Linked DNA regions of Homo sapiens. The main gene of each other region encodes a partner of the protein of the gene in region 2 in a complex. Each region holds a gene or a part of one and is shown on either strand. Other genes may lie near its edges.

Region 1 (7,395 bases), about 23 Mb from region 2:
TGACTACAACTGAAGGCCTCTTGTGATTGTAAAGTAGAAGAAATTAGATCTCTGGATACTGAACAGGAGAAAGGAGATTAGACTTTGAAATCATAAATTAGCAAATTTCAAAAAGGGGCCTCCCTGTTTGCCCAGCAAAACATTAAGGATCTATTATTCTGTTGACATGTTAACTTTCTCTAATCTTTATGCTGTCTTTTACAGATGGGCTGATTTCTTTGTCATTCTAGAGCCTTAAAATATTCATACATTTTGATCTATTGATAAATTTCATCACTGGAGATTTATCTTATAGAAATAATTCCAAAGAAGGGAGAGCCTTCTATCATTCTACGGCTAGCAGTTCCCTGCTGTTCTGGGCTCTCTCTCCTTCCCTGGGCTGCTCCTACGTCACTATACTACTACCTTTACCATTCCATCATCAAGTGTATACATTACCCCACAGCACAAAAAGAACCGGCTAGAAAAGAACAGAACAGAATTGCAATGGCAGAATTGACAACTGGCTTACCATTTCAGCTGTTCAAGGCCTGACTGGTCTTCCTGCACTTCCTAGTAAGATGACTCACGGTACCATTACAGAATTATCTCACGCTAGGGTCAAACCTGATTTCTACCACCGAGTGTGTGGTAGAGGCATGTTTCTCAGAACCCAGAGCCAAGATAAGGAACAGTCTCCAATTCCCTGTTCTCTCCCCTCCCTCCTTCACCCTTCATTCCAGGCAAGTCTCCTAGGCAAGTGTGTCCCATCCTCATCCTCTTTTTTTTTTTTTTTTTTTTTTGAGGCAGGGTTTCACTGTCTCTGTTGCCCAGACTGGAGTACAGTGGTGTGATCATGACACACTGCAGACTCGACCTCCTGGGCTCAGGTGAGCCTCCTGCCCCAGCCTCCTGAACATCTGGGATTGCCAGTGTATGCCACCACTCCCTGCTAATTAAAAAAATTTTTTTGTTTTTTAGAGACAGGTTCTCACTATGTTGCCCAGGCTGGTCTCAAACTCCTGGACTTAACCTATCCTCCCGCCCTGGACTTCCAAAGTGCTGAGAGTACAGGTGTGAGCTGCCACACCTGACCTCTTGTTGGTTTAGTCTTTCCAAAGTTTTTTCCATGTGATTGACAGGGGCAAGGTCCATGCTTAAGAGTGAACTGTCCCAGATTTCCCATGGCTGTCACAGTTTTAACACTCAAAGTCCCATGTTCAGGGAAACTCCTCAGTCCTGGGCAAAACTAAGACTGGTTATCCTACTTCAGGGAAGCACCATCCTACCTCAGGGGAGTGGCTCCATGAGGAGAGTCCTACCAGAATTCAGTGATCAACAGTAAACACCATAATGAGTTCTTGAGTCTTAACATCAATATGAGGAACATCAGGGGTACAGCCCAGGATGATCTTCACTTCTGCTGGCCTTGTTTCTTTTTTACAGTTTTTCCTCTAGTGTGAGGAGATTCCCGCAAGGTTGATGGTTTCAACTCCTGATCTCTTGTGATCCACTCTTCAGTCTAAATAAACATTTCCATAAGAACATGCAGTAGTTTGCTGTCAAACTGAAGCTTAAATCCATATATATACATACATATTTGAAAAGAACAGTTCTCTAAAGGAAATTTATCTGTAAAGGTGCAACTCTGCCCATAGAATAAGCCACCCTTTCCATGGTCTCACAAAGCAGTCTAGACTCAGCGTTGCAAATATTTTCATTTTCAGATGATGATTTTAGATAAATCTTTGCCGAACTTTCAGGTGTTTTACTCAAAAGTCTCCAGCTTTTGAAAAAAGGAAAATGTCTAGAGCAGTGAAATTAGTTTTTTTTACTGCAATCAAGGTTTCAAAACAATGTAGTTGGCCGGGCGCAGTGGCTCAAGCCTGTAATCCCAGGACTTCGGGAAGCCGAGGTGGGTGGATCACGAGGTCAGGAGATCGAGACCATCCTGGCTAACACGGTGAAACCCCGTCTCTACTAAAAATACAAAAAAATTAGCCGGGCGTGGCCGGGCGCAGTGGCTCACCCCTGTAATCCCAGCACTTTGGGAGGCCGAGGCGGGCGGATCACAAGGTCAGAAGATCGAGACCACGGTGAAACCCCATCCCTACTAAAAATACAAAAAATTAACTGGGCGTGGTGGCGGACGCCTGTAGTCCCAGCTACTCGGGAGGCTGAGGCGGGAGAATGGCGTGAACCCGGGAGGCGGAGCTTGCAGTGAGTCGAGATCATGCCACTGCACTCCAGCCTGGGTGACAGAGCGAGAATCCTCAAAAAAAAAAAAAGCCGGGCGTGGTGGCGGGCGCATGTAGTCCCAGCTACTCGGGAGGCTGAGGCGGGAGAATGGCGTGAACACAGGAGCCAGAGGTTGCAGTGAGCCAAGATCGCTCCACTGCACTCCAGCCTGGGCGACAGAGCGAGAGTCCGTCTCAAAAAACAAAGAAACAAAAACAATGTAGTTATCTGAGTAAAATTTGAATGAGGGCTATAGCTATGCTCCACAAGCCTCTCCAAGAAGGAGAGTTTTCTTTCTTTCTTTTTTTTTTTTTTTGTAGTCCCGAGTAGCTGGGACTACAGGCTCCTGCCACCACGCTTGGCTAATTTTTTGTATTTTTAGTAGAGACGGGGTTCACCGCATTAGCCAGGATGGTCTCAATCTCCTGACCTCATGAACCGCCCGCCTCGGCCTCCCAAAGTGCTGGGATTACAGGCGTGAGCCACCGCGCCCGGCCTGGGCAGTATTTTCAAAGACTTAGAGGAGATTTTTGTAAAGTGCCAATACATTATTTAAAAAAGGCTAATACTGTAAGGATGTGCTCTTTGAGTTTAATTAAAGTCTTCAAAGGCTGGGACTTTTTTTTTTTTTTTTTTTTTTTTTTTTTTTTTTTTTTTTTTTTTTTTAGACGGAGTCTTGCTGTGTCGCCCAGGCTGGAGTGCAGTGGCACGATCTCTGCTCACTGCAACCTCCGCCTCCTGGGTTCAAGCGATTCTCCTGCCTCAGCCTCCCGAAAAGCTGGGATAACAGGCACCCGCCACCACGACCGGCTAATTTTTGTATTTTTAGTAGAGACGGGGTTTCACCATCTTGACCAGGCTGGTCTCAAACTCCTGACCTCGTGATCCACCTGCCTCGGCCTCCCAAAGTCCTGGGCTTACAGGCGTGAGCCACTGCGCCCGGCATTTAAAAAAAAAAAAATTTAAGATAGGGTCTTGCTCCATAGATCAGGCTGGAGTGCAATGGTGTGATCATGGCTCATCGCAGCCTCCACCTCCCGGGCTCAGGATATCCTTTCATCTTAGCTTCCCGAGTAGCTGGGCCTACAGGCGGGAGCCACCAGGCCCGGCTAACTTTTTGTATTTATTTATTTTTTTTTTATAGAGACTGGAGTCTCACCATGTTGCCCAGGCTGGTCTTGAACTCCAGGGCTCAAAGCAATCCACCAGCCTCGTCTCCTAAAGTGCTGGAATTATGGACGTGAGCCGCTGCGCCCGACAAACTGGGACTATCTTGTTTCCTTTTTACACCCTTCCTCTCTGAGTAGTGGGGAAGGGTGTAAACCTCCCTAGGAGCAGGTAAGGTAGACTATGATTGCTCACAATTGGTAACCATACTTGCAGTGATCTTTGTGATTTATTGAATCACATCTAGGATGTACATATTAATCCATATTTGTGCTGAGCATATTCATTTATCAACTAAGAGACTACAGAAAAAAGCCATTGTTGTGGTGATGAAAATGTCAACACTTTATCAGGTTCTGAACCCAAAGAGACTTTTGCTTATTATGTAAGAAGCACACCTGTGGCTCTAGGCCTTTGGAAGAAAATAAAAGAGAAAAGCAATCCGTGTGCTTTTTTTCCCCCTGCCTTAAGGTCAGGCTACATAATTCTGGGTTTTCCCAGCTTCTCTTGGTCATGCTTTGTGGGGACTAAACTGGAGCTTTTACGTAGACTGTTCATTTTGTTCCTCAGCTTGAATTCTCTCTCGTTTTCTGTCTCTATGATTTTTAATTCCCCTCACTGCTCTGTTAGGAAACTAAGGGTCAAATGAGGTTAACTAATTTGCTCAATTGGGATAAAGAGTGTTGGGAGTCCATAGAACAGTTGGGGGACTATAGTTACACAACAAGTGTTATTGCGCTATGATTTGATCTTCAACACATTCACGAGAAACTCCAGTTCTCTAAAGAACTTTAACAGCCGGCGACCCACAGAAAATGGCAGAAGTGCAGGCTCTTTTTTAACCCGTGGCTTATGATCTGGGTTTGTTTATTTACGCCTCAGACAGGAGCCGGACCTTGAGTAGGAGTTGAGCTGTTTTTCGGCGCTCGGCTGTGGTTCCTTGAACGATTGCTTGGGCGTTCCTCCTTTGATGTCTGGGGCGTTCTTGTATTCGGTGATCTTTTGCGCCGTCTTCTTGCTTGATGTCTCCTGAGCGGCGGCGGCGCCGGGTCGAGGGCTGAGTTGTCCGCGAGGCCCCGCGCTCAAGCCGCCTTCTCCTGCCGGTCGGTAGAACGGACCCCTTCCTTTATTCCTGTCTCCTCTTTCTTTTTCCCTGTGGCTCAGCCCGTTCGCTGGACTGCAAACCGAGCTCCCGTCTGCCTTGCAGGTAGGCCCAGGAGGAGCCTGGGAGGCCCAGCCCGGCATCCTTCCGCCGCGGGGTTGAGAAGACCTTGGCGCCGGCGGGTGGGCAGGCTGGCCGGCCGCCGTGACACTGCCAGAGGAGGGGCTACCGGACTGCGTTGAGGGGCGCGGCCGGAGGGGCAGCCCGGAACCGAGGGAGAAGCCGAAAGGAGGGAGAGTTGCTGGGGCTTCCCGGTGTGGTTCTTTAGGGAGGAGATGTTGGGTCTAGGGCACCCCCAGTGTGTGGCGAAAATGGCTTTCCAGGAACCGATAGAGCTTTGCGCACTTTGACCCTCCTTCCTTTCTCCTTTTCCCCCCACCCCGAAGTCTCCGGGTGTCATGCCTCAATTGCACTGGGGACCCCTACTGAGTCCAGCCTTTGAAGGGACCTTTGAGTAGGTGGAGGCTTATGGAACAAGGCCCTCTGGCTCTTCTGAGCGAAGTGTTATGTTCTCGCCTTTTTCTGGGTGGGTAAACTGAGGCTGATGTCTGGGACGTGACTTCCCCACATATCCCCAACAGATCATTAAATTCACTGTAAGTCACTTTTTGTCGTTTACCAATTCCCTTCCCCCCACTTACCAGTCAAGTTATGAAAACAGTGAGTTATTGTTTGATCGTCTGTGATCCCAATTTTCCTAGGAATATAGACTGTTAGGAATATAGATCCTGTCACAAGAGGCTTCAGAAGTAAAGGAACCATGTGGTTTCTTGGCTGTTTTGCTTTTCAAAGTCTGTATCATTTTAACTAGTGTAGCAATGACAGTTTCTTTTTGTTTCTTGATAACCTTGTTGTCTACTTTGTTTCCTGATAACCTTGTTGTCTACTTTGTTTCCTGATAACCTTGTTGTCTACATTGTTTCCTGGTTGATTTATCCTCCTTCTCCCCAGCCTCTTTGGAAATCTTATAACTATGGTGTTTGTGGTTAGAGGTTAGAGTCTAGTAGAGGATGGTCAAGACTTTGAAGGCAAACGCTTGTCCTGTGAGGGTCTGCTTTCTGGGGAGTATCCAATGGAAACCCAAGGAGTCTGTCTCTCTTTTTTCTTTTTTTTTTTTAAGACAGGCTAGCTCTGTCGCCCAAACTGGAGTGCAGTGGCGCGATCTTGGCTCACTGCAACCTCTGCCTCCCGGGTTCAAGCGATTCCCCTGCCTCAGACTCCCGAGTAGCTGGAAGTACCGGCGCGCGCCACCACACTCGGCTAATTTTTGTATTTGTAGTAAAGACGGGGTTTCATCATGTTGGCCAGGCTGGTCTTGAACTCCTGGCCTCAAGTGATTCGTCCACGTCGGCCTCTCAAAGTGCTGGAATTACAGGCATCCACCGCGCCCGCCCAGTTTTGTTGTATTTGATTAGTAGTTTGGTCACTGCACATACAAAAGCTAAAAAAGGCTGTGTGTAGAAATCATTCAAATATTGAGATATTTAAATGAAAGGTTAACGCTTTGGGAACTCCTTTGTGGTTCCCTTTTCCTTCCCAGCTTGGAAAGTCTGGGGACTAAGTCTGTTATTTTCATCGGATTCAGTACCATGATCCTAATTTGTGTCACTTCATTCTTGGAAAAAAAAAAATTCAGCCTGTCGGGCGCAGTGGCTCACTCCTGTAATCCCAGCACTTTGGGAGGCCAAGGCAGGTGGATCACCTGAGGTCGGAAATTCGAGACCAGCCTGACTAACGTGGAGAAACCTAAAAATTCAAAATTAGCCGGGCGTGGTGGCGCATGCCTGTAATCCCAGCTACTTGGGAGGCTGAGGCAGGAGAATCACTTGAACTCGGGAGGCGGAGGTTGCGGTGAGCCGAGATCACGCCGTTGCACTCCAGCCTAGGCAACAAGAGCGAAACTCCGTCTCAAAAAAAAAAAAAAAAAAAAATCAGTCTTGAGGTCATTCTGGGTTGGATAAGTTTCCAAAGTATGTAGAATCAGTAAGAGAGCGTTTTTTTGTGTGTGTGTTTTTTGAGACGGAGTCTTGCTTTGTCCCCCAGGCTGGAGTGCAGTGGTGCGATCTCGGCTCACTGCAAACTTCTCCGCCTCCCAGGTTCAAGCAATTCTCTGCCTCAGCCTCCTGAGTAGCTGGGATTACAGGCGTCGCCACCACGCCCAGCTAATTTATTGTATTTTTAGTAGAGATGGTGTTTTACCATCTCGGCCAGGCTGGTCTTAAACCCCTGACCTCGTGATCCACCTGCCTTGGCCTCCCAAAGTGCTGGGATTACAGGTATGAGCCACCGCGCCCGGCTAAGAGAGTGGTTTTAAGGGTGCAGAGATTCAGTTCCTAGTCCTTGAGTGGAAACTGTACAAGGCCACATTCTCCCACTATTTTAGTATTCTCATGTGAGTTTTGGAAAGATTACTGTTCCTTTAATTTTTTGTGTGAGGTCAGCAAGATTTAAATGAAGGGCCCTTAATCATAAGCAATTTCCTAGTTACACGACCTCAGTGCTCCCAGAAGGGGATTAATGAAGAGCCACCAGACTATCTTTATGGAGAATCTAGATTGGGAAGTTAAGCTAAGAATGTGCATTTTTGAAAAAGTTTTTATGGTAGAAGAGAATGTATATCAGAGGAAAGAATGTAGAGAAGAAAGCAACATTGTCCACTGGGAATTGATAAGTTCTGCGTAGAATTTAGAGTTATAAGGACTATCTCATTGGCTCCTAATGAATGCTAAATAACAAATGGAAATTGCTGTGAGTGTCATGAAGCAATCTTAGGAATATTTTATTATGTTTCTGCAGGAAATAATTGGCAGAGGCTTAAGTTGAATTGAGGCCAAGAAATTTGGTGGTGT
Region 2 (7,963 bases):
ACCCTCAAGAAAAAAAAAATAAAATGTAGCTATAGGCAGTTTCTGGACGTTTTCCTATTTGTTAAGCACCTTCTTGCTCCGAGCTTTCCAGCCACAGTGCACTGGACGCCATCGGAAGGCTGCAGCTGCTATTTGGTGCTTTACCACCGCTGAGAAGGTGGAATGGTCACGGCCCGGTTCTGTCACTTTCTTCAGCCGGACAGTCGCCTTATTACGGATTCCAGTAGGGCCGAGCACACTCCTTCCTGCCCGTCTTTACAGATGAACATGCTATCGCTCCAGCAGTACAACCCGCCTTATTACGTAAAAAAGCAGCCCCTATCTACCCGCAGGGAAGGAGTATGTTCGGCACCACAGCTGGACTGGTGCTCGAGTTAAGCGTCCTGGGAGGTCCGCATGCGCTCCGGAACCGTAATGCGCGCTTTTTCTAAGCCTTACGGTAAACGCGGACGCAGGGCAACCACGTGGCGGTGGAACCGAGGCCCGGCGGGAATGCGCGGAATGCGCGGCGCGGCCTCGCGCGGTTCCCGAGCCACGGCCCAGGGTCCGGCGGCGCGCGCTCTCGCCTCCTCCCCTCACCTCTCCCAGCCGCACCCCGGCCCTGGCCCTGCCGCCCAGAACTCGCTGGGCAAGTCGTGCCCCGCGTGAACACACAGAAGGGGCTTGGGGACCGAGCGCGGCCCATCAGTCCCTCAGACCCTGAGGACCCAGAATTCCCTAAGGGGTCCGAATCCGAGTCCTGCCCCCAGCCCTTAAGGCACGGGCTCCAGGGACCCCAGGGGAAGGGCGCGGGGCATTAGGTACGCAACCCGTTTCCCCGCACCTGGAAAAAAACTCCCTTTCCCTCCCCTCCCCTGCTTGTTGAGTGTCCGGATAACCAGAACTCTAAGGCGCCCCGTAATAACGACCCCGCTGTCCCTCCACCCACCCCCAAGTGCCAAAGCGAGGGATGGAAGCGCTTTCAAGCGTTCCAAGGGCATTGAGGAGCGAGCTGGAGAGGCGCGGGGATGCGGGGTCCTCCCCGCAGTCTTCCGGAAAGGGCGGGGGAGGGCGCGGCAAGTTCCGGAGTGGGGCATGCCGTGGGAGCCCACGAGGGCCTCAGCGCGGATCCTCCGCCGGAAAACCGGCTCCCGCGAGCCGCCGCCGCAGGTTTCCTAGGCCCCGCGAGTCCCGCAGCGAAGCCCTGCGTCTCCGTCCGACGCGGGGGTCTGCTCAGCCTCGGGTGGGCCGCGGCCAGGCCTGACTGCGGGGGAGAGGGCCGAACGTGACCTCCGAGGTCACCCCCAGCCAGCTTTCTCTCCTGTGGTCGGAAGTGGTTTTCTTCTCGATCTGGGCGCCTACTCCCCACCACTTGGTCTGAGAGGGGCTGGGGCCGGAAGGCCAGGGAATCTCTGGTGGATTTGGGGGTTCATATTGCTCAGGGTACCAGCCGATGCGTTTTGAGGGGCGGGAGTCGAGGAATTAGAATCGCCTTTAACCCTCAAGAGTTGCGCCTTCAGCCTCGGGATCCCAGATGCGTCGTTGGAGCCAGGGCCGCCCCCCTACCTGTTGGGTTTGCGTTTTAACTCCAGCGCACACCTTGCCGGCAGCCCTCGGAGCTAGGGGAGGGGTCTCGTTTCCCCGCAGCCCGCCGGACAGACGACTGGGGCACGGGAGGGGCGGTGGCAGGGTGGTCTGTGTGTGGCTGAAACTAATTGATCTGGAGCGGAAACGCACGTCTGCGGTTGGGGCGATGGGGGGGGCGGTGCGGCTGTCCATGTGCCGAGCGTGTGGCTGTCTCGGGTGGGCACTGGGGCCGGAGTTCGCCCCGGCCCACCTCGCAGTTTTGGGGCGCCTGGGATCGGCGCTACGTAAGCGAAGCAGAGCTGCCATAGCACGTGGGCCGCCACGCGCACCCCAAAAGCAAGCAGTGTGGGGGGAAGGGGAGCTCGAGCGCCTTCGGAGCCCAGGGGCCGGCTTTCGGAAGCGTTTTCCCGGGCGACTTAAGGGCTTAACAATGGAAAACTCGCGGAGCCTGAGCCAAGTCCTTTCAAGTCGCCGCCAGGTATGCGGCTGCAGGTGACCCCACCTGGGTGCGCCCGCCCGCCAGCCGCCCTGGTGGAAAAGCGGGTGCGGGAGGTCGCTGGCGAAAGGTCGGGACTGGTCCCTGCACCACCCGCCCCCAACCCAAGCCCCGAGCCCCGCGGCGCGCAGCCGCGCTGAGTCCCGGGGTCTGCGTCGCGGCGCGCCGGTTCCTGAATGAACGCGCTCCCTTCCCCCGCCTGAATGAAGGTTCCCACAGCCAGGGACGGTGGCGAACACGCGCCTGCAGCGGAATTCGCTTTCTCCTGACCGACCATCCGCCCAGGCCGCGGTCACCGGGGCGGGGGCCAGGGGGCGAGGAAAGCGTGAAGGTGATTTCAGTTAATTTTGGATTTTCTTTCAAACAACGTGGTTACCCTCCCGACTGGGCCACTTGCCCTTTGTCTCCAAATGGTCACCAAGAAATAAGAACAGAGCACTTTAAATGAGCCCAGAATCCGCAGTTCCTGCTTCGTGGTGGGTTTTAAGAAGACAGTGTAAAGTAAAACTGCAACCGAAAAGTTTTTTAAAGTTGCTTTTCTCTTTGGAAAAAATAAAATCAAAATGCTTTCTCTGCGCTTCTTGAAGCAATGACCCTCAAAAGCCCAGAGGTATTGGCCCCCTCGGGGGACCCGGGGGCCGCCAAGCAGGGTTCCCCCAGGTGGGGGCTGGGCAGCTGGCGCTCCCCGCCGGGCCCCAAATTCCAGCGCCGGGCCCCAAATTCCAGCGCCTCCCCCGCGGGTTCCTGGACGGCTCTTTACGCTCGCTAACCGGGCTTGCAATTTTGCGCTCGTCCCTGAGCCGGGAAATCAACGAAGTTCCTAGTCGAGATCTGCCCGGTCCGCCTAGTAACAGCGCCGCGCCCCCATTGGCTCATGCTAATTCCAGTTTCCTCTGTCTTGCGCCCGGGATGGGGGGGTGAAGCTCCCTCCTGGACCCAGAGCCGGTTGTGCCGGAGTGGGCGAGCCTCTTTATGCCCTGCTGCCCCTAGCCGACTTCGGCCCGCTTCGCGCCTCGGGCTGGGCCAGGGCGCACGCGGGGCTCGGGGCCCCTCGCCCCACGGGATGGGAGAGGCCGGGTGATAGCTCCGGGCCCCATAAATCATCCAGGCGGCCGCCGGGTCGGGATTTTATGAATGAAAAAGCAGCTGGGCCGCCCTTGTGCGCGGGCTGATGCTCTGAGGCTTGGCTATGCGGGGGCCAACGCGATTGTGGGTGCTCGGGGAGTGGGGGGGGGCACGACCGTAGGTGCTCCCTGCTGGGGCAACCCATCGCTCCCCATGCGGAATCCGGGGGTAATTACCCCCCCAGGACCCGGAATATTAGTAATCCTAATTCCCGGCGGGGGAGGGGGCGCGGGAGGAATTCACCCTGAAAGGTGGGGGTGGGGGGGGTCGCATCTTGCTGTGAGCACCCTGGCGAAGGGGAGAGGGCTTTTTCTATCAGTTTTCTTTGAGCTTTTACTGTTAAGAGGGTACGGTGGTTTGATGACACTGAACTATATTCAAAAGGAAGTAAATGAACAGTTTTCTTAATTTGGGGCAGGTACTGTAAAAATAAAAACAAAAGTTAAGACAGTAAAATGTCCTTTTATTTTTTAATGCACCAAAGAGACAGAACCTGTAATTTTAAAAACTGTGTATTTTAATTTACATCTGCTTAAGTTTGCGATAATATTGGGGACCCTCTCATGTAACCACGAACACCTATCGATTTTGCTAAAAATCAGATCAGTACACTCGTTTGTTTAATTGATAATTGTTCTGAATTATGCCGGCTCCTGCCAGCCCCCTCACGCTCACGAATTCAGTCCCAGGGCAAATTCTAAAGGTGAAGGGACGTCTACACCCCCAACAAAACCAATTAGGAACCTTCGGTGGTCTTGTCCCAGGCAGAGGGGACTAATATTTCCAGCAATTTAATTTCTTTTTTAATTAAAAAAAATGAGTCAGAATGGAGATCACTGTTTCTCAGCTTTCCATTCAGAGGTGTGTTTCTCCCGGTTAAATTGCCGGCACGGGAAGGGAGGGGGTGCAGTTGGGGACCCCCGCAAGGACCGACTGGTCAAGGTAGGAAGGCAGCCCGAAGAGTCTCCAGGCTAGAAGGACAAGATGAAGGAAATGCTGGCCACCATCTTGGGCTGCTGCTGGAATTTTCGGGCATTTATTTTATTTTATTTTTTGAGCGAGCGCATGCTAAGCTGAAATCCCTTTAACTTTTAGGGTTACCCCCTTGGGCATTTGCAACGACGCCCCTGTGCGCCGGAATGAAACTTGCACAGGGGTTGTGTGCCCGGTCCTCCCCGTCCTTGCATGCTAAATTAGTTCTTGCAATTTACACGTGTTAATGAAAATGAAAGAAGATGCAGTCGCTGAGATTCTTTGGCCGTCTGTCCGCCCGTGGGTGCCCTCGTGGCGTTCTTGGAAATGCGCCCATTCTGCCGGCTTGGATATGGGGTGTCGCCGCGCCCCAGTCACCCCTTCTCGTGGTCTCCCCAGGCTGCGTGTGGCCTGCCGGCCTTCCTAGTTGTCCCCTACTGCAGAGCCACCTCCACCTCACCCCCTAAATCCCGGGGGACCCACTCGAGGCGGACGGGGCCCCCTGCACCCCTCTTCCCTGGCGGGGAGAAAGGCTGCAGCGGGGCGATTTGCATTTCTATGAAAACCGGACTACAGGGGCAACTCCGCCGCAGGGCAGGCGCGGCGCCTCAGGGATGGCTTTTGGGCTCTGCCCCTCGCTGCTCCCGGCGTTTGGCGCCCGCGCCCCCTCCCCCTGCGCCCGCCCCCGCCCCCCTCCCGCTCCCATTCTCTGCCGGGCTTTGATCTTTGCTTAACAACAGTAACGTCACACGGACTACAGGGGAGTTTTGTTGAAGTTGCAAAGTCCTGGAGCCTCCAGAGGGCTGTCGGCGCAGTAGCAGCGAGCAGCAGAGTCCGCACGCTCCGGCGAGGGGCAGAAGAGCGCGAGGGAGCGCGGGGCAGCAGAAGCGAGAGCCGAGCGCGGACCCAGCCAGGACCCACAGCCCTCCCCAGCTGCCCAGGAAGAGCCCCAGCCATGGAACACCAGCTCCTGTGCTGCGAAGTGGAAACCATCCGCCGCGCGTACCCCGATGCCAACCTCCTCAACGACCGGGTGCTGCGGGCCATGCTGAAGGCGGAGGAGACCTGCGCGCCCTCGGTGTCCTACTTCAAATGTGTGCAGAAGGAGGTCCTGCCGTCCATGCGGAAGATCGTCGCCACCTGGATGCTGGAGGTGCGGGGCTTCGGGCGGCTCTCTTAAGACTTCCCTGCAACTTGTTGCCCAGACCCACGTTTCTTTGCTACTCACCCCCCTCCCTTCTCTCCCGCTAGAACTTTGAAGTTTGCCGTGGTGTTTCTAGGGATCCGTATTTTCAAAATAAAAATTGCGGGTATTTTCTGAAGGAGGAAGGGGTGGGGGTGGGGGTGCTAGAAGTAGCGTTTCGTGGGAGGGGAGAAGGGGGTCCGGGAGGGGTGCCTTCGGGAGAAGCCAGTGCCAGGGGCACCCCAATGGGCCCGAGGGTGCGGGCTGGCAGGCTGGGTGCGCTTTGTGTCCCCCGCCTGCGCCCCAGCCCGGCTGCGCCTCAGCGGCCGGGAGCCGCCAACTCCGGGGGGAGGGGGCATAGATTTGATTTTTAAATTAATATCCATGGACACGTATGCAAGGGCCGCTCGTGCCAGTATTATGCGCCATCTTTGCTCTTTTATTGCAAAGCAAAAGTGTTTATTAATAATTGGGGGCAGGGTGGGGGCGGGGAGCGGCCGCCGGGCGCTGGGGCCGCAGCTAAGGGCCGCGCGGCTGCCGGGAGCCCGCGGGAGGGGCGCAGGGACGCGGCATGGGTAGTTTTGGGGGGACGCCGCTAGGGAAGGGGGGGCCTTTGTTCAAGCAGCGAGTCCCGGGGCGCCCCGAACGGGCAGCCTGGGCCGGAGAGCACGGCGAGCTGCAAGGTCGCGTGGCCCCCAAGACGCCAGGGCTTGATCCCCGTCTGCAGGGATATCGGCTTGGAGGACCTTCTCCGAGCGAGCCGGGGGCCTGGGAGCACATTTTCAGACCTTCGGTGGGCGCCTGAGGGGCCCGCAAGTATTTTAAAATAATTTTTGAAAGTGCGGCGTGGTGCCCTTGCGAGAGGGAAACGCCGCCCGCGCCCAGGGGGAAGGGGGGGCCCCGGAGTTTGAATTCCTGGGGCTCCCCCCGGAGCCTGTAACGAACTCCCAACCCCCGGCCTGGGTAAAGGGTCGCCCGAGGGTCATTTTCAGGGTTTTTTTATGCACTTAGTTATTTTTTTAATATTTTTAAATATTTTTTGAAAAGATGACGTCTGGGGAAATGCGGCGCGGCGGCCTGGGACGCCACCTTTGTGTCTCGCAGGCGCGGCGCCCAACCCCGCGGCCCGTTCCGCGGCCCCGCACCCCAGTTGGTGTCGACCCCCAGTCAGAGGGACCACGGAGCTCCAGGGCGGGCCAGGGTCCCGGGGGCCGGCAGCCCGCGCCGCCGCGCACGCCGCCCAGCTGTGCCCGCTCCCGCCCCCACCGTGCCAGCCTCGCGGGGACTTTCCCTTTCAGTTTCGGGGAGGGTGGGTACTGGGGACGCGCGGGGGAGGGGGCGCATCACGGGAAGCTCCTGCCGCCCCCAGCCCCGACCCCTCGGCGCCCTCCAGACCTGGCGGCCCTGCCAAGCGCGATGGGGGGTGCGGGGGCGTGCGGGGGGGCGGCGCGACCTGGCGGCGGCGGTCACGGGCCCCGTGCCTCCGTAGGTCTGCGAGGAACAGAAGTGCGAGGAGGAGGTCTTCCCGCTGGCCATGAACTACCTGGACCGCTTCCTGTCGCTGGAGCCCGTGAAAAAGAGCCGCCTGCAGCTGCTGGGGGCCACTTGCATGTTCGTGGCCTCTAAGATGAAGGAGACCATCCCCCTGACGGCCGAGAAGCTGTGCATCTACACCGACAACTCCATCCGGCCCGAGGAGCTGCTGGTAACCACTGGACCCCGCCGCCCCCCGCCCCCCGCGAGCCGCACGCAGGACCACGGGGCCGGGGAAGGTGCAGGCGGTGGCGGCCGGCCCGCCTCTGACATATCTGCTCCTCCGAGGGAGGGCGGCCCCGCCGCCGGGCGTCCCTGTCCGGGGAGCGGGCGGGATCCTAGCCGCCCTCGTCCCGCCGCCCTGTGTGCGCTTGCCTGCGACTCCCACCGCGTTCGCGCCCCGCGGTGTGGCCGAAAAGTGGGCGGCGCGCGCCCTCCAGCGGCTGCACGAGGAGCGCCGCGCTCGGCGCTGAGCCTCCAGTTCCAGGTGGTGGGAGGTCTTTTTGTTTCCACTTGCAGAGTCTTTTCACGCGGCGGGCGCCTTTTCTGTTTTGATCTGGGATTGCGTGTTGCCCCAGCTCCCTTGAGTCCCCAGCATTCGCCAGCCCTCCCCTCCAACATCCAGGACCGCACGAGACGCAGGGGCCAGTGCTCTGAGCCGGAGGTGCGGCGTGGCCCGGCCCCCGTGCTGCCGGCTTCCCCGCGCCCCCGGGCTGGCCCGCACCTCCCCTGATGGCCGCTCACCCTGTGTTCGCAGCAAATGGAGCTGCTCCTGGTGAACAAGCTCAAGTGGAACCTGGCCGCAATGACCCCGCACGATTTCATTGAACACTTCCTCTCCAAAATGCCAGAGGCGGAGGAGAACAAACAGATCATCCGCAAACACGCGCAGACCTTCGTTGCCCTCTGTGCCACAGGTAGGGCAGGCCCGGCAGCCCCCGGCCTCCCCTTGAGAGCCGGCTCCTTAGGTGACCCTGGCCGGCTTCTTGCTCTCCACCTGGGTGCTGTCTGGGAAGATGTCCCCAGACCCCCTCCTGCGCTGGAGAGCGCTCTTCCAGCTCTGGTGAGCAGAGGCCCTGGATTGTTTG

The links. The genes of interacting proteins can lie anywhere in the genome.
Region 1: the proteins of CCND1 (region 2) and AMBRA1 are in contact, whole or in part, in a cryo-EM structure (PDB 9IVD), measured with the Homo sapiens proteins. Residues at the interface, in NP_444284.1 of Homo sapiens: Thr286, Pro287, Thr288, Asp289, Val290, Arg291, Val293, Asp294, Ile295; in NP_001354397.1 of Homo sapiens: Arg54, Ser55, Phe57, Val73, His75, Arg96, Thr97, Trp99, Leu116, Ala139, Arg184, Ile945, Asn1012, Asn1029.

Annotation. Positions count from the first base shown.
Region 1 is NC_000011.10:46,591,024-46,598,418, reverse strand, and holds the start of AMBRA1 (activating molecule in BECN1-regulated autophagy protein 1), read left to right. Parts: upstream 1-4,395; 5' UTR 4,396-4,591; intron 4,592-7,054; exon of another isoform or gene 7,055-7,294; intron 7,295-7,395. UniProt on the Homo sapiens protein: Substrate-recognition component of a DCX (DDB1-CUL4-X-box) E3 ubiquitin-protein ligase complex involved in cell cycle control and autophagy.
Region 2 is NC_000011.10:69,636,200-69,644,162, forward strand, and holds the start of CCND1 (G1/S-specific cyclin-D1), read left to right. Parts: upstream 1-4,956; 5' UTR 4,957-5,114; coding exon 5,115-5,312; intron 5,313-6,831; coding exon 6,832-7,047; intron 7,048-7,632; coding exon 7,633-7,792; intron 7,793-7,963. UniProt on the Homo sapiens protein: Regulatory component of the cyclin D1-CDK4 (DC) complex that phosphorylates and inhibits members of the retinoblastoma (RB) protein family including RB1 and regulates the cell-cycle during G(1)/S transition.